Linked DNA regions of Homo sapiens. The protein of the gene in region 3 purifies or fractionates together with the protein of the main gene of each other region. This does not show direct contact. Each region holds a gene or a part of one and is shown on either strand. Other genes may lie near its edges. The genes, in order: RFX3, RFX2, FOXN3 and ZBTB34.

Region 1 (8,155 bases), on a different chromosome or scaffold from region 3:
AATTGTTTAGGGTAAAATAAACTGTTCCAGGTTAAAGCACAGTAAGCTTATAAACTATAACCTTTTATTTGAGTACCAAAGCAGAGTACAAGACTATTTGAGTACTGGAGGAATAATACAAAAAAAACTAACCATCACTACAACCTTTAATGAAAACATTGTGAAACGATGCAAAACTTCTAGAAATTCATTAGTTTGCCATATATGTGTATATGTATGATGCCTACACCATTTAATACAATTCATAGGCAAAACACACCAAAACGACTGAGTTAGGCATTATGACATACATTGAATCACAGACATTTGACTATTCAAAACAAGTTACAAGTGACTTCTATTTAATAGTTTTAGTTTCAAAGCATGATCACTTTTACAAATTTCTATTAGTATAAAAACTGAAAACACAAGAGAGTATCAATACATAACATAGTCCCTTCTAGGAAAAATATTAAGAAAGAATAAAGTAAATGCTAAGTATCTATCCTTGTGTTTAATTTTTAAATTTACCATTTCTCAGTGTTTCTGATTATTTAATCAATTCCACAGCAGCTCTAATAGCAATTTTATCCCACATATATGCTTCAAAAAATGGAAAAGTAATGAAATTCAATTTAAGTTCTGCTCTCAAATCAACTTGTGAATGAAAATCTAAATCACAGAAAACCTGAGCTATACATGAGTGAAATGCCTCAAAAAAAGTTCTCAGACACTGTAAATAAAATATTAAACCATAACATTATAGTATATAATTTACTTAACTGAAAACCTATTATGTAAATGGCATAAGGTCTGAAACTGTCCCAAGACAGCAAAACTCCTATTAACTTCAGAGAGAGTTTATAGGACCCAGGAGCTTCACCATCCAAAAGTGTTCAGGCATTTGACACTCATCTGAACAGAAAAAAAAATACAAGTTAGTATTAGAGATTTGCATGGAACCCAGTTTGGGGAGAGGAGGAATAATTATAAACAAATCTGAGTGCTCTGAGAAAGACTTCTTTCAGAACAAAATATCGTCTTCATTTAAAATAGCAATCACAAGGAAATGAATTGAAAAAGTTTTTTTAAAATCCCAACTCTTATTTTACAAAATATTAGCCTTAATAGCATTATAATTACCCACCCTGCTCGTTGACAATCTCAAGAATAATTAGTACTGTCACATTATTCACAAGCTGCTGTGTCAGTTAAATCAATATATGTTTGCTGTTAGAAAGAAGACTATTTGAATAAGCATTTTAAAACTGTAAATTTAAAACTTCAATATGTGCAACTACAATAGTACATTATATTTGTTTTAGCACACATTCATTATCAAAACTCTACTGATAAATCTATTAACTAAAAGTTAAGCTGAAAAAAATGAACAAATTTAGGGGATCTGTAAAACTGGGTTAACGTTAACCAAGAACCTACTATATAAGGACTAATAAGTATTCAAATCTACAGAGAAAAATAATTTTTAAAAGAAATACTTAAAAAGGAAAAAGTTCTCTCTCCTGAGCAGGTTCAAGTCACTGTCCAAAGAAAATCAAAAAGTAAATAAAAAGAATATGTTAAGTACACACATGCCTAGATCTTAACCAGAAAGAAAGTGAAATATACACACGTTTCAAGTTGAGAACCTTCATACATTCTTTATGAACTTGACTTGAATTTCAACTCTCAAAGGAAAATGAGGAGATTAAAAAAAAAAAAACTCTTAAAGTACCATAACTGTCACAAATAACACTGTGAACTGAGTTCTCACAAAGCTTCCTTGTGTCCCTTCCCTGTTCATCACAAAGTCTCATAATCACAATGAAAATTGTTAACACTCTACTGCGGGGAAGGAGGATCATCAAAGTGAAACGGAACCTCACTACTCCCCCTCCCACCTCCACATGAAGGATAAAGCACTGTCAATAACTACTAACCCAAGTATCACAGATGCCCTGCATCCGGTTTAAATCACAAGCACACACACACACACACACACACACACACACACACACACACACACACACACCAAAGAAGAGAGAGGAGACAGACTTTAAAAAAGAAAAACATCTTTCCCAGTACAGCAAAGAGGGCCCAACGAACAGGCCCCAGGTTTCAATATGTGTGCAAGGGGTGTGTGGGGGGGGGGAGAAAGAGGGGGAGGGAAGAGTGCTGAATGGATGTTAAGACTGTTTGCCGCACAAAGAAAATACAGTTTTAAAAAGAAAAAAGAAAACCATGAAGCTGATGATGGTGAAAGAAGAGCAGCCCATTCAGCACCAGGCAAAGAGGGGCAAAAATGAAGGGAATGGGCGGTGGGAAAAGTTCACCAACGTATGAGGATTAAAAATAACAAAACCCATAACAAGGCCCCACAAGTGAACAACAACAACAACAAAACACCACCTCTTGGGTCCCCCCCTTGCACACTGTTGTCTATTTCGGCTTTGAAAGAAGCAGGAAACAGCAGCGTTGGAAAAGAAGAAAATTAAAGAAAGAACAAATTCTTATCTCTTCACCTGACCCTCCTCCTCAGACCAGACCTAAGGGAAAGATCCAGCATCCGCATCGGAAAACTGTGGCTCCCTCTCCCGCTCGGCTCGCAGCCCCCCAAGCTCCCGCTCCATCCCTGAAGTGCGGCCGGCGCAGGGCCGGGGCCGGCGGGCGGCGCGGCGCCCACACCCCCGACCCAGCCGCGGCGCGCAGGGTCCATTGTAAACAAGCCCGGGGAACAGAGCCCCTCGGCGGCGGCGCCGCAGCGGCAGCCCCCGTGTCAGGAGTGAGACCCCAGCACAGCCACACTCGGCTCGCACACACGAACACACACACGCACGGACACACGCGTTCACACGCAGCCACACGCTCCCACACACATGTAGAGACCGAAGAATATTCACCTTGGCTGTGGATTATTGTGGTGTTGTTGGTGGGTGATGGAGATGGTGGTGGTGGGGAGGAGGAGGAGGAAGAGGAGGAGGAGGAGGAGAGGAGTAGTTGTTGTTGATGGGTAACAGTCGCCAGGACTACGGTGACTATGGCGCTTGATTCACAAGGCAACGGTTGCTATAACTCACAAAAGAGAGAGAGAGAGGGAGAGAGAGAGAGAGCGAGAGGGAGAGGGAGACACTCGCACGGGGAGGGGTGGGGGAGGGAAGAGGGGAGGAGGCGGGCCCGGCCAAGCCGCCGGAAGGGGAGGGCGCAGCGCTGTGACTGACGGCCCCCAAACCCGGGTGGGGTGGCGGGGCGGCGGGGTGACGGGGCACGAGGCCGGGATTCCACCGCAGGACTCCGAAGAGGTGCGCCTATGCTTGGCTGGGGCTGAGGTCACCAAGAGTCCTCTCGGAGGGACGTTACTACACGCGCTGGCGAGGCCCAGGAGTCGTGGTGCGAGGGGTACTATCTGTGAAACGAGGGCTGCCTGTCCCAGCAGCCAGCTTTGTACAGAGACGTCCCGGAGCCACGAGAGAGTAACGGCTAACCCGGGGGAGGGGGTGGCGAGGGTGATTCCAGGCACTTTGTGAAGAAACGAGCTATGGCGAGGGAAGAATCCACTTTGAAGAGCGGCCCCCGCCCTGCCCGATACGTTACTTCCGGGGCGGGGCGGGCAGAGGGGCCCGGATGTGCCGCCGCTTTTTAGTTTCTGAGGCGCCGGCGGTGTTCCTGGTAGCGTCAGCCTCCTGGCTTTTCCTTTTCCTGGACGCTTCAGGGCTCCGCGGCCTGCGCTAGACTGGAGGGTCCGCGTCACTCTCGCCCTCCTGCTTTCCGCGCTCTCACCCGCTCCCGCCTCCTGAGGGCACGACTTGTGGAGGAGCGCGGGCGGCGGGGCGTGAGCGAGCTGCCTCTGCCGCCATCTTAGAGAAGGCGAGCGTGGGGTGTGCGTGGGCGCGAGTCGGCCTCCCGCGGTGCCGCCGCAGCGTGGCGCGGAGAGGTGAGGTCCAAGCGTGTCCGGCCCTCACTCCATAACGAAAAAGCGAGGTCATCACTCCCTATCTACAAGGGATGGGAGTAAGTGCCTGTAGAGAGCAAGAAATTGCCCTGCCCGGAGGCTGAGAAAGCGCATTTGGCGGTTCCCCTCGACGGAAGGCGTAGAGGGGCGGGGTAGCTTACACCTGCCTGCGATACCATCCTGTTAGTTTCTAGTTCTGTTAGTTTCAGCCCTTAAGTGCTCACCCCTCTTTAAAGACCGAACTGGGAGTTGAGCTCAAGCCCGGATCCTGTTACCTGCCGTGCTCTCATCCCCCGTTACTCAGCCTACTGTAGCTGAGGGTCTTGCTGTTTGTGGCTGTATTGAGATAGACGAATGGCTTCCGTCTGTGTTGAATGTTGTTAACACAACCTGCCATCTCAAACACCCGTTGATAAGGCACAGCCTGTAATGCCTCATGGTTCAAACAGACTCCTCCAATTCTCTGCAGACTCGAGTCCAGCAGGCACATGCCCCCAGGCCCTGCCAATACCCAAAATCTCCCAACATTTGCCGCTAAGCTGCTTAACCAGGACAATGACATAGTAGAAGTAGAGCCTTAGGAAGTCAGTTCTCCTCTTGAGGCTTAATTTTTGCACCTGCAAGTAAGGGATTTGGGCCGGCATGCGTTCACCAGCGCTAAAATAATACTGAGCTCATTCTGTGTCCCAGAACTGGTGCTAAGTGTTTTACATACATTATCTCATGTAATCCCAACAACACCAGTGTTAGGTAATATTCGCATTTGAGGAAAAACAGGCCGAGAGTCCTAAAAGTCGGTGGTTTTAGTTTATGGCTGCGTGCCATAGAATACAAGGTTACCTTGTTTTAGGAACCAGCTACTTTGGGTACGTTTTTAAAAGTAATATTGTTGCCTTTGATAATCTCATGAGTTAGAGATGTTCTTACAATAATAATGTGTTGCAGTAGTGAACAGTGGTGAGCCTAGTGCTAAAGCTAAAAGGTTTCCTGACCCACTGTGGTAGTAAGGGCTTCTAGTCAGACAAATGATTGTGTGGTGACCAGTGTGGGTCCCATTTGACATACAGATGGGAAATGAGGTATACGTTCCAGCTTTATGAAAACTGGTAGTCGTTATGAATATTCTCTTTATTATATTTACTGATAAAGTCCTCATTCCTATAATGGTGTGTAGGGCTGTATGTTCACACTACATGGCTCTCTGAATAGCTTTGTTTTTTTAAATTCCATTGTCTGTTATAGTTTGCCTGTCCCGTCTTTCATTGTCAGCTGTTGCTTTTTATTTTTGTCAGTGAACATAGTTCTATTATCCTTACCGCCCTTTTAATTTATTGCTCTTAATCTGCAGGCAAGAAAACCACATAGTGAACCTTGTGCAAAACTGTATCTCAAGAGTATAAATAGGTACTTCGAGGGACTATTAAAAAATAAGTGCAACCCTTGTGCTAGGACATTATAGAATCAGTTTTAAGCTGCTTAAATTTTTTTTTTTTTTTTTTTTTTTTTTTTTTGCCTTACAGATTTGGTCTTTTCCAGAGTTAGGAATAGATAAATTTCCTGAAGTTAATTCTTGAAAATTTAGAATTTAGAATATTTTCCCATGTTTTAGGATACTTGATGATGATACAATTCTAACCATATTGAGGTTAATATTTGAAATGTTAGTGTTACTGCCTGATAGGGTTTGGCTTTGTGTCCCCACCCAACTCTCATGTGAAATCGTAATCCGAAAGTGTTGAAGGAGGGGCCCTGTGGGAGATGATTGGATCCTGGGGGCAGTTTCTGATGGTTTAGCACCATCCCACTAGTGCTGTTTCAAGAGTGACTTCTCACGAGATCTGCTTGTTTAAAAATATTTACCACTACCCCTCTCTCACCTGCCACAATGTGAAGAAAGTCCTTGTACCCTTCGCCTTCCGCCATAATGGTAAGTTTCCGTGAGACCTCCCAGTCATGCTTCCTGTTAAGCCTGCAGAACTGTGAGTCAGTTAAACCTCTTTTCTTCATAAATTACCCAGTCTCCGGCAGTTCTTTATAGCAGTGTGAAAAGGTACAAATACACCACCACACTGAATCAGATGACCAAGATACCAGTTCAAGCTATAGAATCGAAAATACGGATTTTATATGCATGTATTGTTTAATACTGTAATTAGTTACAAAAGAACCCAGAAACCTTTTAACCCATAGTTATTGCTTGTAGGATTTTTTTTAGCCATTTTTTAAAGCTGCATAGATGCATCTTCACATATGTTGCATGTATGTTTCAGAAATAAATTATTTGCTAAGAAGTCACAGAAAAGACCCAGTATTGGACCACTCTAACAGTTATCACCTATTATAGTGCAAAACACACTGTGTGATCAATAAAAAAAGGTACATAACCAAGCTAAAATTGGGCAGACATAGTTCCTGAATGTAAAATGTTCAACATTATCTATTAATTTAGAATGTTGTGTTTTAACTTGGATTGTTTTTTTCTCTCCGATCAGAATGATTGGAAGAGACATGGAATAACACATTTGTATCTGAACTACTTGAAGAAAAATCTGAAGCCCTGATGATATATATAGATTGTGTATTTCATAAGTTACTTTAACACATTCGTAGTGGTAGATTTCTGTATTATCTATTAGAGTGTTTTTGCCTATTCATATCTACTCCATATTCAAGGACTAATAAGTTATTTCATTATTATACTTTAAAAAAGAAAGGATGCATATGAAAAGATAAAATAGTGCTATGTGATAGGCTTGCTTCTGAAAAATAGTATGAGAGTTTGAAAAGTAATGTATGCTGTGGCACCTTATTGTTGAATTTGTGGTGAATCTTTTTATGAGAGAAATCACACCTGTTTTAAATTTTTTCATTTGATTATATCCTATTTTCTTCAATTGAGAGAGAGATGTAGAGTCTTGGGTTCTCTTATATAAAATGAATGGTTTCATTTGTACCAATATTTATTGAGCACTTATGTGGAATACTGGATAATTTTATTACTCGATTGCTAATTCCCTTTACTAGATCTGAAATTCTGTGGATATGTGATAATTATTTAAAAATGATAAGAGAGTGATAGGGGCCAAGGTAATTCAAAACTGAACATAATTTGCCACTATTCTCTGGAGCACCCTCAAGCCTCCCTATCCCCACCTAAAGTATGATTTGGTTTTGAAAACAGTGCAATAATTTTTTCTGGTAGATTTGTCTTTCTGTGTTTTCTTTAAGTAATACAAACCAGCTGATTACTCGGCAGTTCTGAAGAGTGTGTGTGGCTATGTGTACACACGTTTGTGTGCATGTGTATGTCTTGGAATTACATTTTTACTCCAGCACAGAAAGATGATTATAGAATCATAAGTTGACTACCTTTGCTTAACACCAAATTACCTTTTGATGTACACATGCAGCTTTAAAAAAAAAAGTCTGGGGCCGGGCGTGGTGGCTCACGCCTTTAATCTCAACACTTTGGGAGGCCGAGCGGGTGGATCACCTGACATCGGGAGTTCGAGACCAGCCTGACCAACATGGAGTTACCCCATCTCTACTAAAAATACAAAATTAGCTGGGTGTGGTGGCACATACCTGTAATCCCAGCTACTTGGGAAGCTGAGGCAGGAGAATCGCTTGAACCTGGGAGGCAGAGGTTGCGGTGGGCCGAGATCGCACCATTGCACTCCACCCTGGGCAACAAGAGCAAAACTCGGTCTCAAAAAAAAAAAAATAGTCTGGAAACAATTCAAATGTATATCAATAGGAGGATGGGAAGACAAATTGTGGGCCCAGCACAATGACTTAACACCTGTAATCCCAACACTCTGGGAGGCCAAGCCATGAGGATCACTGGAGGCCAGGAGTTTGAGACTAGCCTGAGCAACATAGCGAGACTCTGTCTTTACAAAAAAAAATTAAAACTTAGCTGAGCATGTTGGCACATGCCTGGAGTCCCAGCTACTTGGGAGGCTGAGGCAAGAGAATTGCATGAATCCAGGAGTTCAAGGTTGCAGTGAGCCGTGATCACACCACTGTACTTCAGCCTGGGTGAGAGCAAGACCTTGTCTTTAAAAAGTAAAAGAGTAAAACAAATTGTGATACAGTCATACGATGGAGTATTATTGAGCAAGTCAAAGGAAAGGACTGCTGATACAACACGGACAAATCTCAAAAACATTGCATTTGGCAAAAGAAGCCAGACACAGAGTACATAGCATATGAATCCATTTATAT
Region 2 (7,158 bases), on a different chromosome or scaffold from region 3:
GCTCTCCAAACATGAAATACTTTGATATAAATCTAACAAAACATGTACAGAATTTTGTATAAGTTACAAAATGCTGATGAAAGAAGATCTAAACAAATGGAGAAAACGTACCATGTTCATGGATTGGAAGCCTTAACATAGTAAAGATGGGAATTCTCCCCAAGTTGGTTCAGTGCAAATTAGTCAAAATCTCAGTAGCATTTCTTTGTAGATATAGATAAATTGATCTAAACTTATACAGAAACTTTGAGTTTATATAAATAGTCAACGCAATACTGAAGAATAAAGTGGGAGGAACCATCCTCTTCAATTTTAGACTTACTATAAAGCTATAGTAATTAAGACTATGCTACTTGTAAAGGGATAGGCAGACAGACCAATGGGATGGAATAGGACACTCTGAAATAAACCCACACACATATGGCCAACTGATTTTTGACAAAGGTGTTAAAGCAATCCAATGGAGAAAGGGTAGTCTTTTTAACAAATGAGGCTAGAACAACACATTGTTTCATAAGCAAAAAAAAATGAACCTCAACTTAAACCTTACATTATACAAATGTTAACTTGATAGGAAGCAGATCTAAATGTAAAATGTAAAACTATGGTCAGGCGCGGTGGCTCACGCCTGTAATCCCAGCACTTTGGGAGGCCGAGGTGAGCAGATCACTTGAGGTCAGGCATTCGAGACCAGCCTGGCCAACATGGTAAAACCCTGTCTGTACTGAAAACACAAAAACTAGCCGGGTGTGGTGGTACACACCTGTAATTCCAGCTACTCGGGAGGCTGAGGCAGGAGAATCGCTTGAACCCGGGAGGTGGAGGTTGCAGTGAGCCAAGATGGTGCCACTGCACTCCAGCCTGAGTCACAGAGCAAGACTCCGTCTCAGAAAAAAAAAAAAAAAAAAAAAAAACCCAAAACAAAAGTAAAACTATAAAACTTTTCAAAGAAAACAGGAGAAAATCTTCATAATGTGCAAATAGGCAAAGAGTTCTTAGACATGACATTGAAAGCATGAGCCACAGAAGAAAAATTGATAAGTTGGATTTCATCAAAATTAAAATTTTTTTTTTCTCTGCAAAGGACACTTTTTAGAGAATGAAAAGACACACTAAAGACTGGGGAAAATATTTGCAAGTCACATATCTGACAGGAGACTTGTATCCAGAATACATAAAGAATTCTCAAAACTCAACCATAAGAAAACAACCAACCTAGTTAAAAAAGAAGCAAATGACTTGAAGTGACACCTGACCAGAGCATCTACACTCACATGAAAAGCTGCTACCATCATTAGCTATAAAGAAAATGCAAGTTGCAACCACAATGAGGTACCACCACACATCTATTAGAATGGCCAAAACCAAGAGCACCAGCAGCATCAAATGCTGCTGACGGAGAGGAGCAAGAGGAACTCTTGTATGTTGCTGGTGGGAATGCAAAATGGTGCAACCACTTGGGAAACTGGTGGTTTCTGATAAAGTTAAACATACACTTTCTGTATGAGCCAGCAGCAATTCCACTTGTAGGTATATATCCAAAAGAAAGAAAACATATGTCCTTACAAAAGCCTGCATGTGAAACTTAGAGCTTCTTTATTCATAATCACCCCAAACTGGAAACCATCCAAATGGCCCTCAACTAGTGAATGAATAAACAAACTGTAGTGTAATAGAATATTACTCAGTAACAAAAAAAAGCAACTCGGATTCATGCAGCAACTTGACTGAATCTCAAAGGCACCAGAATGAGTAAAAGAAGCCTGTCTGAAAAGGTCACAATCTGTACGATTCCATTTATACACCACGCTAGTAAAGATGAAACTACAGCAATAGGGAACAGATCAGCAGTTGCCAAGGGCTGGGGATGGGGGAGGTTGTGACTGCCAAGAAATACCACGAGGGGGTTTTCAGGGCAATGCACTGTTCTGTGACCTGATTATACACAAATCTACCCATGTCAAAACTCACAAGGCTGTACACCAAAAAGTTGATTTTACTTTGTGTTAATTTAAGAAGGAAAATAAATGAAAAGTAAACACGGGTAATCGAGTTTTAAATGTAGAGACTCTGGAAAAGCAGATAAGTCGTTATTTTGCATCGGGGCATGGCAGCGAGAACTCGGCAGAGGCTGCAGGGAAACTTCCCCTGCTTGATTCAGTCCAGGTGTCTCATGGATGGATTGATCCACGCCTCTAAAAGCTTGATAGTAACAACGATAACAATAATAAGAGCAAAGGAGGCTGCAGCATCCACCAGTGGAGAGATGCTTGACTCATTCCCTTTTCACAACAGCCCATGACGCATGGCTTGTCCTCCTCTTTATACCAATGGCCAACTGAAGTTCAAAGAACTCTGCAGGCCTGCCTATGGTTGCGTGGCCCGTCTGAGGCTGGCCCGACTCCATCGTGGGGCCGCCTGGGCCCAGAGCAGACGACAGCCCCTCCGGGCCTCCGGCTGCCTCTTACTCACCATCCCTGCTGCCGCTGCTTCGAGAATACTCATGGCCTACCCTGCTGGTCCCAAGAGCCTCCTACATACCGTGGCGGGCGATGAGCGGGAGGTGTGGGCCAGGGAGTGTCTGGTGCTGTCCATCCCCCCGTGGATGAGATAGGCTCCCGCGCTGGAGACGATGGGGCTCCCCCCGACATCCATGGTGATGCCCACCATGCTGTGGGAGGGGACCGCTGGCGGGGACGAGGCTGCCACGGTCACCTGGGCACCGCCTGGGGCCTCGAAGTAAGAAGCCGTGCTGCTGGGGGCGTACATCTGAGGCTCGGGGTTGTAGGTGTAGGCTGTTCGTCTGTTAGAAAGAGAGAAGTCACGCATGGGACGCTGTCCCATTTAAATGCCTTGTCTGAGTTCACAGATATCCAGCCAAACATCACGTAAAAGCTGCAACCCAGAGAGGCCAGACATATGGAGCAATTCGGACGTGGCATATGACACTCAAATGCAGCGCAAGTTCACAGCCACCATGTTGCAAAATCTTTAGGACCACAGGCTGACTTATCAAAAAGTGACCACTTAAAAATTCTAGGCCAGGCGTGGTGGCTCACGCCTGTAATCCCAGCACTTTGGGAGGCTAAGGTGGGAAAATTGCTTGAGGTCAGAAGTTTGAGACCAGCCTGGGCAACATAGAGAGAACCATCTCTACAAAAAATAAAAGATTTAGCCAGGTGTGGTGGTGCGTGCCGGTAGTCCCAGCTACTCAGGAGGCTGAGGTGGGAGGACTGCTTGAGCCCAGGACTTTGAGGTTACAGTGAGCTGTGACTGCACCATTGCACTTTAGCCTGGGCAACAGAGCAAGACCCTATCTCTTAAAAAAAATAAATACAAATAAAACTTAAAATTGTAAGTGGATAAATGGGTCACATGAGGGAGCTCCTGTGTGGAGATGGAGCAGTTCTGTATCTTGATGGTGGTATTGTTACACAAATCTACACATGGGCTAAAAATGCAAAGAAATAGACACGCACGCACATGCAAGGGTACACACATGAACATGCAAAGCCACATGTACTCCACATGCAAGCACACACGCAAAAGCACGTGCATACAGACTGGTAGAACTGAATAAGGCCTGTGGGCTAGTTAACAGTTTTACCCCAATGTCAATTTCCAGGGGTTTTTTTGTTTTGTTTTTTTGAGACAGGGTCTCCTTCTGTAGCCCAGACTTGAGTGCAGTGGCAAAATCATAGCTCACTGCAGCCTCAGCCTCCTGAGCTCAAGTGATCCTCCTGCTTCAGCCTCTGAATATGGGTGTGCACCGCCACAGTAGCTGGGGTGATGGGTGTGCACCGCCACAGTGGCTGGGGTTAGAATCATACAACTCCACCAATCACAACCCTGAAGTCACAGCCAGGTTCTCATGTACAGCCCCTGCACTTGTGAGGGGAGCCATCCAGGCCAAATGGAAACAGACAAGCAGGCGAAAGGACTCACGTCTAAAGTAAAGTGAGCTGCACGGGAGATGCATACTTTCCTACCCCAAGCATCACACAGTTACAGAGCAGAAAACTCTAGACATCCTTGCAACATGGAAAATCAAGTTCTATCAACATTATACAAAGCTGGAGTTTAACAGAGGCGAGGGGAAAACACACAGGGGTGGATGGTTTCTGGATCTCAAAGACTGAGACTTCAGAATGAAGAGTTAGGATTAGCCTTTTTTTTTTTTTTTCCAAGACTATCTTTTCTAAAAGTAAAAAGTACAAAAGTCTGTGATTTCTGAAATCTCCACAGGGTTATGATGTCCTAATCCCTCAGCTCCCACCCCGCTCCTTTTTTTTTTGGACAGGGTGTTGCTCCATCAGTCAGGCGTGATCATAGCTCACTGCAGCCTCCAACTCCTGGGCTCATGCGATCCTCCCACCTTGGCCTCCTGATTACCTGGGAGGGACTCTAGGCACTTGTCACCATGTCTGGCTAATTTTAAAATTTTTTGTAGAGATATTGCCCAGTTTCCTAATAGCATTTTAACAGTATTTAGTGAACACATCGCCAAAAGCATAAGGGAGAGGAATTTGCTTGATGCCTCCCCAGGTGGCAAAGGCTGGAGTCAGGGAGAGGGTTCCGGGTGTGGCCCGCGGGAGAAGCACGCACATGGCTCCATTGGTGTAGACGGCGTCTCCCCCTTCCACGTACTGCACCTGGGCAGGATACACGTGCTGCACCGGCTGCACCTGAAACATCGGATACGCTGCGTTACCGCCAGTCACGCCCTCGTGAGTTGCCTGCAGATTATTCAAGCTAGACGTGTCTTCTATTGCCTTTATGAACATTTAGTACCAAATGACAATGTTCCCGCCCACAGTCGGCACGCCTAGAAAGACACTGAGGAGACAGTAATGTACAGACGACATATTCCAAACGGGCCCACACAGTTCAGGGAGCTGCGACTGATCCCCAGAGCTCTGCTAGCGTGTCTGTGCGCCCTGGCTCCTCTGTATACGTGGGGGCGGGACCAGGAGAATGACAACGCTCCTCCAGTGCAGTGGAAACTAGAGTTGTGGACAGAGGCCCAGCCTTGGCTCACAGGACTGTCCCTGGTTTCTGTTTTTTTTTTTTGTTTGTTTGTTTGTTTTTTTGCGACAGGGTCTCCCTCTGTAGCTCAAGCTGGCGTGCAGGCTGCAGTGCACAGGGGGCTGAGCAGATTAGACTCTACATGGCCCCAACACCCCCCGTGGGTGGCCCTGGTGCCCCTTCCCTGGCAGAGAGGAGGGGAGAGAATGTGATGGTCTGAACAGAGTGGGAAGGAGCGGCATGCCTGGAGAGATGGGGCAATGGGGGGACCCCAGCACACCCCCGCTGCCCTGCCCTCCCCTCTCTGAAACATCAGTTCAGAGCCTCGGCTGACAGGCCCCGAGGGACTCTAGTCCGAGCAGTGGAAGCCAAACGCTTTGCACATGGGACTTCAAACTCTCACCCCAGAGGGCATCTTAGTGGCTGTCTACATCCACTGAATTTTGGGGTGAGAAGATGGAGGGCCACAGAAGTGGGCTTGTTCGGGTGTCATGGTGTCATGGTGACCTTCCTCTTGTGCTTGAAGCTGCAGGATGGGGCTGACCTGCCCCTCCTTGGACCACTGAGCATGGTATGCACTTGTCCAACGCACCACCCCCAGAATCACAAGTTCCAGGGGTTAACATCTGTTGGGTGATGCCCCAGGGGTGGAAGTCAAATGTCGAATTCTGGGGTCCAAGTGAAATGCAGAAGTTACAGAAAGAGCTGGGGCAGGCCCAGCACCAGAAAAGTGGTGGAAGCTTCTGGAATCTCCTCTCCTTGGTGTCTCTGGGGAGTGCCTTGACAGACAGCAGCTAAGACAGAGCCACTGGCCTGAGGCCCTGCGTCCCCGCTGGGCCTGTCTGGAGCCTTTTCCTTCCTGTGATCCTGCAAACCTTCCTAGTTCTCATGGACACAGTCACCTGACAAATGCCTGTGAACAGACTGCCAATCTAGGCAGGACCCTCCTGAAGAGCGGTGCATTCTCTAGGGCCTCAGGGCTCCTTTTAGGGAGGAGCCTGAGTTAACTTTAATTCAGGATTCTGCAGGGCACAGTTGGCAAACTCCGGCCCTGAGGGCCAAATCTGGCCCACTGCCTGTTTTTGTAAATAAAGTTTTATTGGCACACAGCCACACCCATTTGGTTGCATATCATTTATGGCTGCTTTTGCGATACAATGGCAGAATTGAGTGGTTGTTCCAGAGACTGCCTGGACCACAAACCCCCAAAAATGTATAATTTGGCCTTTTCTGGAAACAGTTTGCTAACCATGCTTCTAGAGTGTCCCCAAGCTGATGATCTGTGTTGCTACTTGGCTGGTCAGCCGTGCTTTCAAACTTTGTTCTTAGATAATTGAAATCATAAGAAGCATTTCCTCTGTTGTGCCCGCATCTGAGGGTATGGCACTCACTAGCAGATGGTTCCTCCAGTCCAGAGCCCTTTGTTTCTGTCTGCATTTCTACCTGAGCTCCACCCAGCAGGTGCGGGGTGCTCACTGGTTCCCCAAATGCTTGCTGAATTTCTGAATGAACGAAAGATCACCAGCTTTCTTGGCTTTCTGCAAAACTATCTGCAGTAAATGATTTTTTTAAAATTGCACAGCTTCTGGAAAAGTCTTTTGGCTAAGAAACTGAAGCTTACAACAAGGAACAGCAGCCACAGAAAAGGATGCATCCTTCAGAGATTGTTCTGGATTGCTGAGTGCTAACTGCGCCCCGGTTTGCACGGTGCTGCGGTGCTTGTCATTACCTGCTGGGGTACCTGCTGAACTCTGGGGAGGGAGATCGGCTGCATCTGGGCCCCTTTGGGATTGGAGCTGGCTGCCTGGACCAACACCCTCTAAAAGGGAAGGGAGAGAAGGCCAGTTAGACTTGTCAGAGGTCAGTGCTGAGGATACACACAGAATGTAAGATGCTGTTTGTCTGTTCATGTGCTTTTTATTAAAACATAGGCAGGACTGATCAGAGGCGACGGCGGGGTGATGGTCAGACTTGCACACTCACACCGACCTGGGCAGACACACGGCAGGTACGTGCAGGCACACAAACAATGCACATACATACACAAGTGTGCACATACACTCAGCCCATGCACCACACATATGCACGAATTGTGGGCACACACACACGTATGCACACACACATACACGGAAG
Region 3 (7,158 bases):
ATGGTTTTAAAACATAACTAAATTTCTGGAGCAGAGATGGACTTTTGGGGGTGTCTCGGCCCTCTTTTTTTTTTCCCCAAACTTTAGAAATCTGACACAGTTAAATTCATTTTTAGAAGAGAATGCACGTGTTCTTCAATGTTGACGCTGAAAAACAATGAGATTCTCATTTTATTGGTAGTTTGGGTATGAAAATTGTAATATTGTTGTATCACCATAACCTGGTAATAATATGTTCATTTTGCCTATCAAACATAATACAAGTAAGATTGAAGTGCATTTTATGGAGTTCTACTGTCAGTATAATATTTAAGGCTGGCAAACAGTCAACAAATGAGAAGCTTTTAAAAATAAAGAAGTGATAATAGCTATACATCTACTTATTGCAAAGTACTTAATAATTCTCTATTAATGCCTTTGTATTTTAATTTTCTTTGCAGAGTATTGGGAAAGGGTCGTTGTGGTGCATAGACCCAGAGTATAGACAAAATCTAATTCAGGCTTTGAAAAAGACACCTTATCACCCACACCCACACGTGTTCAATACACCTCCCACCTGTCCTCAGGCATATCAAAGGTAAGCAATTCAGACTTCTTTTTTTTGGTCTACTGAAATGGCATTATTTTGGCAGAGACCTGCGCGGAAATTAATTTAATAGGCCGTACGAGATTTTAAAAATAACTGCAGGTAAATGAGAAAGAAATTAAGTATTATTAGGAGGCATATCCACTGTTGTATTTCCTACAAACCTTACCGCTGCTGCAGCGTCAGAGGAATGTGCTTCCAGAAGGCTTCATGGTGGGTGAAATCATGTCTTCCTGGGTAGAAACATTTACAAAGAAAAGTCGACAGCTTTCACATCTCGGTGTGTGTCATGTTTTGTTGGGATAAAAGTACAGGAACGAGTCAAGCAGGCAACTCCATCATCCCCTCATCTGGCCGGTCTCTGCAGACATTCAGTGGAGGCTCACTCAGTTGTCCCCACTGTTGTCTTTCGCAGTCTCCATGTAGACGGTGCTCCCAGGTGACCATTTTGTTGTGGTTACTTGGTCTTTGCTTCTTCAAGGAGAACAGTAGAAACAATAGAGACATTTTATCCTCCTCACATGCCCATTTGTTTGAGACAGTAAGGTCATGGGTACCATTTTTACAAATATATCATTGGAAGGGAGGGTAAGTAGCCTGTCACTTTTTTAAAAAGTGTCTTAATGTTAGATTCCAAAAGAGAGCCAAATAATCAGAACCAAATTTTTAAGATCAATTTTTATGAATACATAGTACTTGAATTTGAAGTGCATTCCTCAGTTCTACAAAAAAATATTTAAAAATGTATAGAAATGTTTCTATCGTAACCACCTAGTTAAGAGGAATTATCCTTGGACTGCAAGTTGAGGTTAATTAGGGATGGCATGATGTCATAGACTTCAGGAATTTTACAGTCCACTTCTTTGCAGATTCTTTTCCTAGTCTGCTGTTTGTTCTGCAGGAGGGAGCACAAAGTGATCTTCTGAAATAGCATTAATGAAGTTCTTCTGCATCTCAGTTGAGAAGCATTCCATCACAGGCCCTAGACAATCAGTCTTCAGCAAGAGACAGGGAGGAACAGCTGGGCTCTCTGAGAAGACTGCTGTATGTCTGCCTTTGCTAGGCGATTAGCGTGATGGTACCCATAGCAACTGGAGCGTCTCCATAGTAACGCGTAGCCGAGACAGGTGCAGTTGCATCACAAGGCTGTTTGTTGCCTGGCAAAAGGACAGGCCATTAGTACTTAGATATACACTGTTGCCTTAGAAACAAATAACCTTACATAGCAACTACAGTTGATTTGAAAGGTTTGGTGTGTGGGGGGGAAGGTTGTAGCAGCTTTTGTCTGTGTTCATAAAAATCAGTGGAAGCATACTTTATTCGAAATGACAACTTGAGGTCATATAGCTGTAGGAGAGAAAGTGGGATTTTCCAAAGCAGCCCAGCCAACATAGTAGACATGTCCAGAAGGACAGAGCCATATGCTTGGTTTTCTCCTTGTGGCCATAGCCACTCCCCAAATGGAAGAGAACCAGGATTGGAGTGGAGAATTGCCGATGTACAAGGTTGGTGAAGGAGGACGTGACACTAATTATTGAAATATTTCCCAGATTCTCATGTTTCTTTGTCATTCTACCCCCACCCCCCGACTCTCCAAGCTGCATGGAATACCCTTCTCTGGGTTTTCCACTCTGCACCTCAGAAGTATTTCATCTCCCTTTGCTTCTAGGAAGTTAAGAACATGAGTGTTACTCACTGGGTCATGTCATTGGTTCCTTTAGACCAGTATTTTGTTGCCAAATGTGACCCCGAGGGAAACACAGTAATTATTTAATAATTCGAAGGATTATAGAGGAGCTCTGGGGGTTGGAACAGGAATGCATATTCAGGCGAGAGGCATTCTGAGCTGGCCTTAGCTTAATGACTTCATTTGATTTTTAATATAGACATAAAAATGCAGATGAACCAGAGCTTTTGTAATGAAAATCATTTCCGAAGGAATATTTCAGACCCCACTCCGTCACCTCCAGCCTTTATCCCCAGTTGACTGAGGGGGGAAAAAAAACCAGTTTCTGCTTCTGCCCATGCGGTGCTTAGATTTCACCTCCACAGAGGTCACTGGCGGTGGAGGGAGATGACAGATGAGATTCTAGTCTGCCTCTTCCATGCCTTAAGTCCATGAGAACAAGTCACTTTCTCTTTCCTGGGGACTGTCATCCCTTCATCTGAAAGCTGAGAGTTTGCTTCAGGATCCTCTAGTGTGTGAAATTGCACTGAAGCCACTGAACACTGGGTAATTGTACAATATTTCTGTGTCTTAACAGTGATGTGGCATTTGGTTCAATTCTAAGCCATCAGGCCACTTGTTGACATGACCTAGAGAAGATGGAAGTGAAACACCGAGTCATTAAACAGGGACCCCAAAATGCCGAATTGACGTGATCTGGCTGGGTCCACTGTGATGCGGGGAATCACCCGTCAGCCCCTTGCTGGATCGCTGTGAGGGGTACCTGGGAAGTGCTTGGCTTTCATGGGGCTGGTACTTAGCATCCTGAAGAAGATGGTGATTATACTAGATGGGCGGTTATTGCTAGGACTTGCAGGTGTGCTTGGCAAATGTCACTCTGAACTGAGCTGCAGGTGGCTGGAAATGCTGCGGGAAAAGCGAGACATTTGAGAGCACTGCCCAGACCTTGCTCACATCCAAATACCATGCTAAATATTGAGATGTGTAGACCCGTGCCTCTGTTTTCCTTTTTTGCTTTTTTTTGAGACGGAGTCTTGCTCTCTCTCCAGGCTGGAGTGCAGCGGTGCAATCTTGGCTCACTGCAACCTCCGCCTCCTGGGTTCAAGGGATTCTTCTGCCTCAGCCGCCTGAGAGTAGCTGGGACTACAGGCAGGCGCCACCACACCCAGCTAATTTTTGTATTTTTCGTAGAGATGGGGTTTTACCTTGTTGGCCAGGCTGGTCTCAATCTCTTGAACTCATGATCCGCCCGCCTCGGCCTCCCAAAGTGCTGGGATTACAGGCGTGAGCCACCGCGCCCGGCCCATGCCTCTGTTTTCTAAAGTGCCCTTTTGAATGTATGTTAGGATGTTCTTCCACACCTGCTTTGTTGATACCAAATTTGTGAATTGTTTTTAATCGAAGTGCAGAGCTCAGCGTGGAGTACTTCAAACCAAGTGACTTAAACAACAGAAACTTACTGTCTCAAGGTTCTGGAGGCTGGAAGTCCGAGACCAATGTGTCGGCAGGGTTGGTTCCTTCTGTGGGCTGTGAGGGAGGGTCTGTTCCACCCCTCTCTCCTAGCTTCTGGTGGTTTACTGGCATTTTGCTGGAATGCTTTTGGCCTTCCTTGGCCTGTCGAAACATCACTCTGATTTCTGCCTTCACCTTCACTTGGCATTCGTTTTCTCCATGTGGTGTCTATGTCCAAATTTTCCCTTCTTGTAAGGACACACTGGTCGTATTGGCTTAGAGGCCCATCTTTCTCCCGTAATAATTCATCCTATTTAACTAATTACATTTTCAATGGCCCTGTTCCCAAATAAGGTCATGTTCAGATGTACTGGGGGCTAGATCTTCAATGTAGGAATTTTGGGGAGGCATAAATCACCCCATAGCAACCCTTTTCTTAAGGGAGACATTTTGCTGATGAATATATGGAGAAGCAGAAAGTAAGGAAATATTTAAAGAACAAAATGGTGGGGTGGGGGGCAGGGGTGTCAAAGGGATTCGCCTGAAGTTGCTCCTAGTAGCCAAAGCTGGGACGGTGATGAGCAGCAAAATAAATAACATAGTGTTGGATTATAACTGGAAATATAAAATAAATACCTATGAGTCCAGACTGATAGAAATAAATGATTGAATAAATAAACAAACAAATAAATGAGAGAAGAGACACAATTCCCATTCAGAGGGTTCCAAATGCTTGATGTAGCTCTTTCTCCACTGAAAGAGGTGGGACGGAACTCTCCACTCCTGGAATGGCTGCACTTAATGACCTACTTCTAAAGATGAGAGCATGGAAAAGGTTGGAAAAGGGAGTTTGGAGTGGACAAACCTGGTGAACAGTATGCCACAGGTGATGAAAGTACCATCCTCAGTGATGTGATGTTGATACCGGGTACCTCTCGTAGGACATCATAAATTTGGCACTTCAGCTTTGTGGTCTTTCTCCCCAAACTCATAACCCCTGTCTAGTCATGGGAAAAACATCAAACAATGATTTTGTCCTTCAGCAGGGACATTCTACAAAAATAACTTGATCCTCACTCCTCAAAGCCCCAAGGTCATCAGAAACAGGGAAAGTCTTAGAATCTATTACAGACCAGAGGAGACTAAGAAGACATGATGAGCAAATGTGTCCTATGATGTCCTGGATGGGATCCTGGAACAGAAAAAGGACATTAGGGGAAAATGTGCAAAATATGAATTAACTGTGCAGTTTAGTTAATAGTAATAGTAGTATGCTGCATGTTTATAGCAGCACAATTTGCTGCTGCAAAGATATGGAACCAACCTAAATGCCCATCAACCTATGAGTAGATAAGGAAAATGTGGTATATATACACCATGGAATACTACTCAGCCATAAAAAGGAACAAAATAATGTCTTTTGCAGCAATTTAAATGCAGCTGGAGGCCATTATTCTTTTCTTTTATTTTTTGAGACAGGGTCTCACTCTGTCGCCAGGCTGGAGTGCAGTGCCGCGATCTCGGCTCACTGCGATCTCTGCCGCTCAGGTTCAAGTGATTCTCCTGCTTCAGCCTCCCGAGTAGCTGGGATTACAGGCACCTACCATGAAGCCCTGCTAATTTTTGTGGTTTTTAGTAGAGACGGGGTTTCACCATCTTGGCCAGGCTGGTCTTGAACTCCTGACCTTGTGATCCACCACCTCGGTCTCCCTAAGTGGGATTACAGGCGTGAGCCACTGTGCCCGGCCTGGAGGCCGTTATTCTAAGTGAAGTAACTCAGGAATGGAAAACCAATGGAAAACGTATGTTCTCACTTATAAGTGGGTGCTAAACTGTGAGGAAGGAAAGGCATGAGAATGATATAATGGACTTTGGGGACTCGGAGGGGAGTAGGGGGAAGGTTGGGAGGGGGATTAAGGATAAAAGACTATCTATGGGGTGACAAGTGCACTAAAATCTCCGAAATCACCACTAAAGAATTTATCCATGTAACCCAAAACCATCTGTACCCCAAAAACTATTGAAATAAAAAAATAGTAGTATACCAGTGTTGTGACAAGTGCCTTATTAGTAATATATGGTGTTAACATCAGGGAAAACTAAGTGAGGGGTATGCAGGAGCTTTCTGTGCTATCTTTGTAACTTCTCTTTCCTTTTTTTTTTTTTTAAAGCAGTCTCCAAAATGCAGACTCATTGATCAATTTTAGATATCCCGATTGTTTTTGGTAGAATGAAAAGTAAAATCACTGCAGCACTGAGAGTTGCCTGACCTACTTTAGTGAAGAGCTGATTGTGAAGGGCTCTTGCTTTTGCCTCATTCTCTGGAAGATCTGCTGAGCCACACGAGGGGTCTCTTTGTAGTTTGGATACTACAGTTCTTGGAACGTTAGTTTTGTGAAATGGCACTCCACTGTGCTTTGTAGAGTACCCGTGGCTGAGCTCGGGCTACTCATGCACACCGAGCCACGCCAGCTTGCTTGGGGAATCTACACCTTTGCCAAGGAGACTCTGGCGTGGGGCCTTCGGAATCTAGATCTGGAAAGTGGAAGGAGGGGTGGTGTGTTTGGGTTGCTTGCCCGTACCTCTTCGGAAAAGTCCACTGAGCTGTTCTAATCTTTATGTTGCCTGTGCCCCTCCTTCCTAGATACGTCATTTCTCATTAAAGAATATGCGTATTTTAATGTTTCCAGTAGACATTGCCAAATTGCCTTCTGATTTTACACTCGGTTCTAGTCCACATTCCCACCAACTTTTTAGGAAATTTCTATTTTTCTAACCTTTCTCAATGTCTGACAGTTAAATGAAAAGACAGTTCCTCAATGGGTGACCTTGACTTTGTGATTTTGGTACTTATAGTGGGGGTATTTAAACTTCGTAACACTACATTAACACCCTATAAACAGCAGCTCTCCCCATAATAATGTTTATGACAACAGATTGTTTTTAGAGAGTGACATATATATGGGTCTTATGTAATACCTTCTCTGCTATAGGCACCAATCCAAAGTCAGTTTCCAGAAAAACATTTTAATCCTCTCTCACCATGGTTGGAGAACAGGTTTTGCATTTAATCAAACAGTATGGTTTATGGAGAGTTTCCTGGATGATTGGTTTTCAGAGCCAGCGTTGTTTTGTGTTTCCTTGGTAATTCCAAAGAAATCCCAGCATCCTACGTACCTTTGGCCTCCATGATGGATTGACCATGATTGGGTGTTAGATGGTCAGAAACTGAGTGAGATGGTTTTTTTTTTTTTTTCTTTAATGAGCTTTCCCTTTTTTTGCTTTAAAATTTTCAATGTAAAAATAATGACATCATAGTCTATATTTCATGTAAAGTATTGTGGCTTAACATGTACAAAGTTAGAAAAATCCACAAGACTCATTTGCTGATCTAGGTCTAAAGATTTATTTTTTGGATGACTATAAAATTTGC
Region 4 (7,000 bases), on a different chromosome or scaffold from region 3:
AGTTAAATTTCTAATGGTTATTTTCTGGTTGATGTTGATGGCAAGGAAAACCTCATGGAAGAATGCAAGTCAAGGTGAGCTTTTCTAATCCTTTTGTCATAAGAGGCAGGACTTAATGTATTTTCCAGGGCCAGTGCCCCTGAAATGCTAGCCAGCAGTAAGCAGATAAGATGCTGTGCCTTACTATTTTTTAGTTATTTGCCTTAAGAAAGCTTATTTTATCTGAAACAAATCCTCTCAATTAATGATTAAAATATGAAACATCTTTTTTCCTACTTCACTGACAGAAGTAAAAATAAGGGACATTTTGCAAAGAAATGACTGCAAACCACTTGAAGTACAACATATTGTGACCCCTTAATCATCACAGTGTCAGACCCAGCCTGACTTTGTCTGTGTGGTGGAACATCCTTAAATGAGAATTCTCTTTCTACTCGGAGTTGATCAGTAAGAATCCAGCACCAATAAAAATCCTGCATCTCACCAGTATGCCTGGATTAAAATCTTACTCTTATAAGAGATAAGAGTTCTGAGTCTGAGACTGACAAATCTAGGTCCAAATCCTGGCTCAGCCAGTCATTAGCTGAGTGACCTTGGGTAAGTTTCTCAGCCTCTCTGGGTTTGCTTCCTCGTCTGTAGAATGGGGATAACTGCAGCCTCTTAGTGTCGTCTAAGAGCTTACTTACCATACTGTACACAGTAGGAGCCTACTGACCGTTAGTCCTTGTCATTGCTAGTAAAATTAAAGAGGCCATTCCTCTCCTGCTTGGAAAGCTCAGAAGAAGCTTCTGATGATGTTTTGCATTGACTAAAAGACAAATCGCACCCTCTTGGAATTAGTGTATCTGAGCAGACCTGGAGAATGTTAACGCCTTGGTAGGAAATGTAACAGTTTGGATAAAAATGTTCTTTCAGGCTCACATGAATTAATGCAGTAAGAACTCTAAACTTGTTTTCTTTTAAATTAGGATGAGTGCTTCATGAATATCCATCACAGAATGCCATTTTATTTATTTTTTTTTTCTTGCATTGGGTTTCAGTAGCACCAGAATGTTTCACACAGCCCTGGTGTTATTTGACTGCTGCTTTCTAAAAGATTAGATTGTAGCTCATGACAGCTCAATTTTGGTTTTAATCTAGACCCAGGCAGAAATACCTAGAAAAGTTATTTTTATATAATTGTTACTTCTGTTACCATGCCTTTTGTCTGCGGTGCTTCAGTCTGTGGTCTTTTTAATGACTTTGTATGAAAATGAAAATTAGGGATCTTCAGGTTTCCAGTGCCTGCCAGAGAAAGCCTCGTTTGAGCTGTGTCTCAGGTATCAGCAAATGACTGAAGCCAGCAGGTGCAAATCTGGGTTTGGAATCATGAGCATCTTGATTGAGAATAATGGGTACCTCCTGGTGCCTTAAACAACTTCCAAATTTGTAACTTTCCTTTCTTTTCTTGGAAGTGTAACTGGATATTTTTAAACAAAGTGTAGCATCTTGTGGAGCAAATTAGACTGTTTATGGGTTAGGTTGGAATAAGCCACCGTGCTAGATTTTGCTGTGGGCAGAGACGATCCCGCATCTCTGGGGTCTCCAGAAGGAAAAGTTCAGAGCTGAGGGTGCGGCTGTAGTGGCAGTCCATGGATCTTGAGCCACCAGCTTGTTTTAGTTGACATGTACTGAGAGCCTCTCTGCCCCAGACACACTGCTGGGCTCTGGGCACGCAGTCCCTGCCCTCAGAGAGCTCACCGCCAGGAGTGGAAGCTCAGCAGTGAGGAGTCTCACAGAATCAGCACATTTCTAATTGTTCAGCTTTTACATTTTTACTTTTGTTCTGGTTGTTGATATGTGGAGACAGTTCCAAGGCTTTATCCAAGAAAGTTGTAGAGGAGATTTTAAGGCCCAGGTGGGTGTTTTGCCCAGATGGCATCTGAGAGTCCCTTCTTATTTTTAGGTTCTCTGCAGAATGGGTCAGCAGTGTGAGAGGATGTCATTAGTTTTCCATTGTTGCATTTCCTCACAGCTTAACAGAATACGTGGTGCAGAATTTTACTTAAAGATACTAGCCAATGGGGCCGGGCGCAGTAGCTCATTCCTGTAATCCCAGCACTTTGGGAGGCTGAGGCAGGCGGATCCCTTGAGGCCAGGAGTTCGAGACCAGACTGGTCAACATGGTAAAACCCTGTCTCTACTAAAAACACAAAAATTAGCTGAATGTGGTGGCACATGCCTGTAATCCCAGCTACTCAGGAGGCTGAGGCATGAGAATCACTTGAACCTGGGTGGCGGAGGTTACAGTGAGCCGAGATTGCACCACTGCACTCCAGCCTGGGCACAGAGCAAGACTCTGTCTCAAAACAAAACAAAAACAAAACTAGTCAGTGGAAAGGCTTGAGGAGAGGGCTAGGTGAGGATGTTACCCCCTTCATCAGGTGCTGTGTTTCCATTCCTCTTTTCTAGGAGCAAACACCCTTTCTATTCTCAGCCTTCTCTCTTTTTTTTTTCCCTCCCCGAGTAACCTCATTTTACCAAAACGATCCTCAGTCAGTACACAGTCACTCCCAAATCAGTATCTTCGGGTCTAATATTTCTCTCTAGCTCCAGCCCCATATTTCCCACGACCCCGTGAAAAACCTGAGCCCAGCTTGTCCTGGCTGAGCTACGTGGCCTCCGAGTAGACACCATGCCTCAGTCTCCAGGTGCTGCCGCCAGAATTCTGTTTGAGTTCTCTGAGTATTCAAGGCCCTCCACCTTCTGACTGTGGCCTTCTCCTTCCATGGCCTTCCTTGTCCCTGAGCTGGGGCCACTGCATGCTGCCTGCTCTACCCCAGACGCTGTTTGCATTCCCCTGTGCCCTGTTCCTGCTTTTCCTTCTGTCTGGAGTGTTCTTTTTTTTCCCTTTGAAATGCAAGGCCTTGTTCAAAAATATCTTCCTCCATGAAGTTTTCTTTTGTTCTATTTTGATTTTTTAAAAATCTTTTTGGTCAAAAGTAATCAGCCTTGTATTGTTCCTTGTAGTTCTTCGTTTCTGCCTTTATAACTGTCTGCTTGATGTAATAATTATCCATTTGCAGCCCATCTTTCTACTCTAGATTCCTTGGTTTAAAAAATTATATATTTGTAGGTACTAACCTACATGGCTTAAAAAAAAATTTTAGTGAGAATAATAGTTATGTGATTTTTTAAATGCAAAGGTATAAAATAAAGTCTGTTTCCCTTCCCTCTCCTTAGTCCTTCCCCACAGTGACCACCATTAATAGTACCACGTGGTTCCTTCCAAAATGGATACAGCAAGCAACGTAATATAATTCCTTTACAAAACGTACATGAAGGGAATGACATATATGCATACATATTAGTCTACATCTTGCTGTTTTTGGCTAAATCTTAGCACTCCTTCCATATCAAAGCATACAGATCTACCCACTCTTCTTAATAGCTGCGTAGTATTTCATTGTTGATTATATTTTTTGAAACCAGTTTCCTTTGGGGGTTCCTTTTTTTTTTTTTTTTTGCTATAGCAAAGAAAAATTCTTAGTGGTTGTTCTCATATGTCTCTCTTACACTTTTGTAGGTCCTATATATTAGTAGGCTTAATTCCTCCCCGTTACTTGTGGACCAAAAGGTAAATGCCTTTTACATTTTGATAGATATTACCAAATTATTCATTCCTGAGGACTACACTTGCCAGCTCTTTTAAACTGTGTGCAAGGCTGATGGGTTAAAAATGGTATCTCATTATTTTTTCTTTTTGTATTTCAAACGTCTTTAATCAGAAGTAAATTTTAGCATCTTTGCTTCTTTTTTTGTCATTTTTCTTTTTTTTTTTTTTTTGAGCTGTTTGTATCCTTTGCCCATTCTCCCATAGGGGTTTTTTTTGTGTATGTCACCTAATTTGATTTGTAAATTAAGGAATTTGGAAAGTAGTTCTTTGTCAAATATGCATATATTTTTCCTCAATATATCATTTATCTTTTGGCTTTTGGCGAAAAGGGGTATTTTTTTTGTCATGTACTTTTACGTTGTCGAATGTATTTGTCTTTGCCTTTGTGGCGTCTGAGATTTATGTCATGCTTGGAAAGGCCTTTGTGTCAGTGTTATAAATAAATTCACCCATGTTGTCTTTCATTTTTTTGTTTTTTTTTTTTTGGTGATAAGTCTTTTTAAAATACTGGCATAGGAATAGAGTGGCATTAAATGGAAAGTAATAAGATCCTCCATACATTCCTTGGTGCTTTATAAGAAATTGGTTGACATGTGACACCTTTGAAAATTCAAAGGAGCTGTGTTTGCCATTGGTGGGCCACGGTATTTTATGTGACCCTCTAATGTTACATATAAGGGCAGTTATTGCCTTTTTGCCTCTTTTACTAACTCAGTGAGGGTGGGGAGCTGAATGGAAGAGCAGGGGCTTGAGTTACTGGTTTCTGTTCACCCTTCTCAGCCTCAGCCGTGAATGTGACATGATGGTCGCTTGCTCTTCCTGTTTTTGTCGAGTGGCTTTTTGTTCTTAAGCCCCTTTGGGTAAAATGCGTTAACCTGGATTGGGGGGTGTCTCTCCCTTGTGTGTTGTTGCAGAGCAGCCTCTTGCTGTCCTGATGCATGGGCGCAGTGATGGATTCTGTAGCTTTTTTGAGTGGGATCTTGCGAAGATGTCAAGCAGCATTACTTACCAAGCCTGTCGTCATATGGTCTCGCATCAGACCTTAATTTTCTTTTCAGCGCATCCATGCCTGCTTATTTCCAGAGCCCCCGCTTTGGCTTTGGACTTCAGGTCTGTGGGAGGAGTGTCCCAGGATGGCTCGTGCGGTCATTTCCAGGCAGTGCCGCTCTCCCTGTGGCTTGTACCCACAGTGCCTCACTGTGTGAGTGTCCTCCTGCTCTGGTTGCCCAGCCGGCCATCACTCCACAGCGTGTGTTCATTTCTCCCAAAGCTGCTCGCCTTCAGCTGTGCTCACCTTTGCAGTGTGGCTTCCATGTCTGCCGTCCTCTGGTGCTTTCAGACTTGGCTTCGTCACTGCTTGGTCAGTCCTGGAGGGCCCCTCACAGTTTGCTGTTGCTTTCAGGGCGCCGGTCTCAATGCTGCTTTGAATTCTGTTGAACTTGGGCTGAACCCTGTGTCTTCTTGGCAGCATCTGCTCTCTGTGACTTTCACCTTCAAACACCAAAAGGACCGGTTTACTTGAGCCCTAGATCTGTGGTTTCTAATTAATTGAGGCTTTCGCATGTAAAGATAGCTTTTTATTTAAAGCAAGTAGAGTGAGCCAGGGTCCGGGGCTCTGAGGAGGAAAGGGGGATCAAAGCTGTGAATATGGAGGGCATGATACACGGTGGCCGCGGGGCCCACCTGGAACATTCTTCTCCTCATAACCCTTCTGCTAGTGATTCTGGTCTAGAAAAGAGGGAGATTTTGCTCTACAAAGAGGGTGCTTCACTAAACTCCTACAGCTGAAATTGCTTGGTCACAGCGAATATGCAGATGTAATCTTGATGGATATTACTAAAATGCCCTCATTTGCCCTTCTCTATTCTGGGCAGCAATAGGGAGGATGTTTGCCCACCCCCACCCCCCACCCCATCTCCATCCCTTTCCTTGACACTGTCCTAGGGCAGGAATGTAACACAGGTCCAGCTCGCTAGGGATAAGGGGTTGTTGTATAGGGACCTAGATACGCACACTTCAGAAGGGTCCTGGGAAAGTCAGCTGCTTGGATCCTTGGTTTCCTCATCTTTAAAATGGGAGTCATTGTACCTGCCTTAAGGGGCAGGTTGGGAGGATTCAGAGACATACTGCGTCCTAAGCCTTACTTACGACATGCCTGGCATGTATTACACATTCAATAAAAGCTGGTCACGGATGATGACGGTGGTGGAGTGACTCTGCCAAGTAGAGGGGGAGGCTGAGGGGTGTGGCAGCAGGGGCAGTCATCCCCTTTCACAGCAGCCCAGGCTGGTGTGGGGGCGGCTGGGTGCCTGGAAGTAGGAGAATGTCGGTCCTGCCCACATCAGAGGTGGTCCTTCCCAGAAGCTACCTGGGAGACCAGTGGTGGCCTTGTGTGGTCACGGCAGAGGCTGTGTGTGAGGTGAAAGCTATTCCACAGGTGTGAAATTATTCTCTTTCTTTGTAAGAAAGTAAGATTTTGGAAGTAAGAAATTAAAGAAATTGAAAGAGCAGAAAGATTGTCTTTCCATTGATTGAGTGAACAGAAGAGACCTGTGAAGAAGTTGAGGAGGTGACAATTTTGAACTTACCAAAAAACCATTTCAACAAAGTTCTATCCATGTGTATTTTTTAAAAGAAGTATCTCACATTCTTTTTCCAGAGTATAGTTTTTATAAACAAAAACAGAATTTTTGTTAAAATACGTATCGATACTGAAAATAAATCCAGCTTGTATGTGCTTGTTTTTTAAATTAAAATAATAGCAGTGTAAATGTCTAATTTGGGTGTGGTTTTTTTGCCTAGAATAATGTGACAGAAACACCTATGATTAATCTCCTGAATTAAAGAGTTCTGGTTCTGATGGTTTTAGTGAGTGGAATAATCAAATTCATTTTTGTTTTCTGAGGCAGCTGCAAACTTAATCTAAATGAAAAACTAATATAAATCACTACTCTGCATTATCAAAAATGAATTCCATTCCCATCTCTCTCTGAGTGGGGAGGAATCTGCATTAAGCCTCTATCAAACTGCAAGACTGGGACTTGTATTCATCTTTGAATTCCCTTTGGTTTTCTGTATGTAAGAGATTGATATTGAGTGAATATTTCCTATAAATGTAGGAAAAATAATTTAAATTCCCAGTCAGTGTGCCATTTAGTGATTGCAATTAAATCTAATACTTGCAGCGCATGACAAAAGGCTAATTTCCTTAATTTGCGAAGAGCTCTGACAAATCAATAAAAAAGGCAAATAAGGGCAAAGGATATGAGTAGGCAGTTCAAAGACAAACTTAGACAAATTGCCATTAAACATGAGAAAAGATATCAACCTCATTTATAATTAAAC

What was found.
Region 1: the proteins of FOXN3 (region 3) and RFX3 purify together in Homo sapiens (affinity purification with mass spectrometry; 2 studies listed by BioGRID and IntAct, with this or other methods). This does not show direct contact.
Region 2: the proteins of FOXN3 (region 3) and RFX2 purify together in Homo sapiens (affinity purification with mass spectrometry; 2 studies listed by BioGRID and IntAct, with this or other methods). This does not show direct contact.
Region 4: the proteins of FOXN3 (region 3) and ZBTB34 purify together in Homo sapiens (affinity purification with mass spectrometry; 2 studies listed by BioGRID and IntAct, with this or other methods). This does not show direct contact.

What each region holds. Positions count from the first base shown.
Region 1 is NC_000009.12:3,522,868-3,531,022, forward strand, and holds the start of RFX3 (transcription factor RFX3), read right to left. Parts: upstream 3,135-8,155; 5' UTR 2,880-3,134; exon of another isoform or gene 1,635-2,879; coding exon of another isoform or gene 1,613-1,634; exon of another isoform or gene 763-1,612; intron 1-762. UniProt on the Homo sapiens protein: Transcription factor required for ciliogenesis and islet cell differentiation during endocrine pancreas development. Essential for the differentiation of nodal monocilia and left-right asymmetry specification during embryogenesis.
Region 2 is NC_000019.10:6,037,439-6,044,596, forward strand, and holds part of RFX2 (DNA-binding protein RFX2), read right to left. Parts: intron 6,845-7,158; coding exon 6,755-6,844; intron 4,686-6,754; coding exon 4,606-4,685; intron 2,804-4,605; coding exon 2,542-2,803; intron 1-2,541. UniProt on the Homo sapiens protein: Transcription factor that acts as a key regulator of spermatogenesis. Acts by regulating expression of genes required for the haploid phase during spermiogenesis, such as genes required for cilium assembly and function.
Region 3 is NC_000014.9:89,344,091-89,351,248, reverse strand, and holds part of FOXN3 (forkhead box protein N3), read left to right. Parts: intron 1-440; coding exon 441-577; intron 578-755; exon of another isoform or gene 756-962; intron 963-7,158.
Region 4 is NC_000009.12:126,863,639-126,870,638, forward strand, and holds part of ZBTB34 (zinc finger and BTB domain-containing protein 34), read left to right. Parts: exon of another isoform or gene 1-54; coding exon of another isoform or gene 55-74; intron 75-7,000. UniProt on the Homo sapiens protein: May be a transcriptional repressor.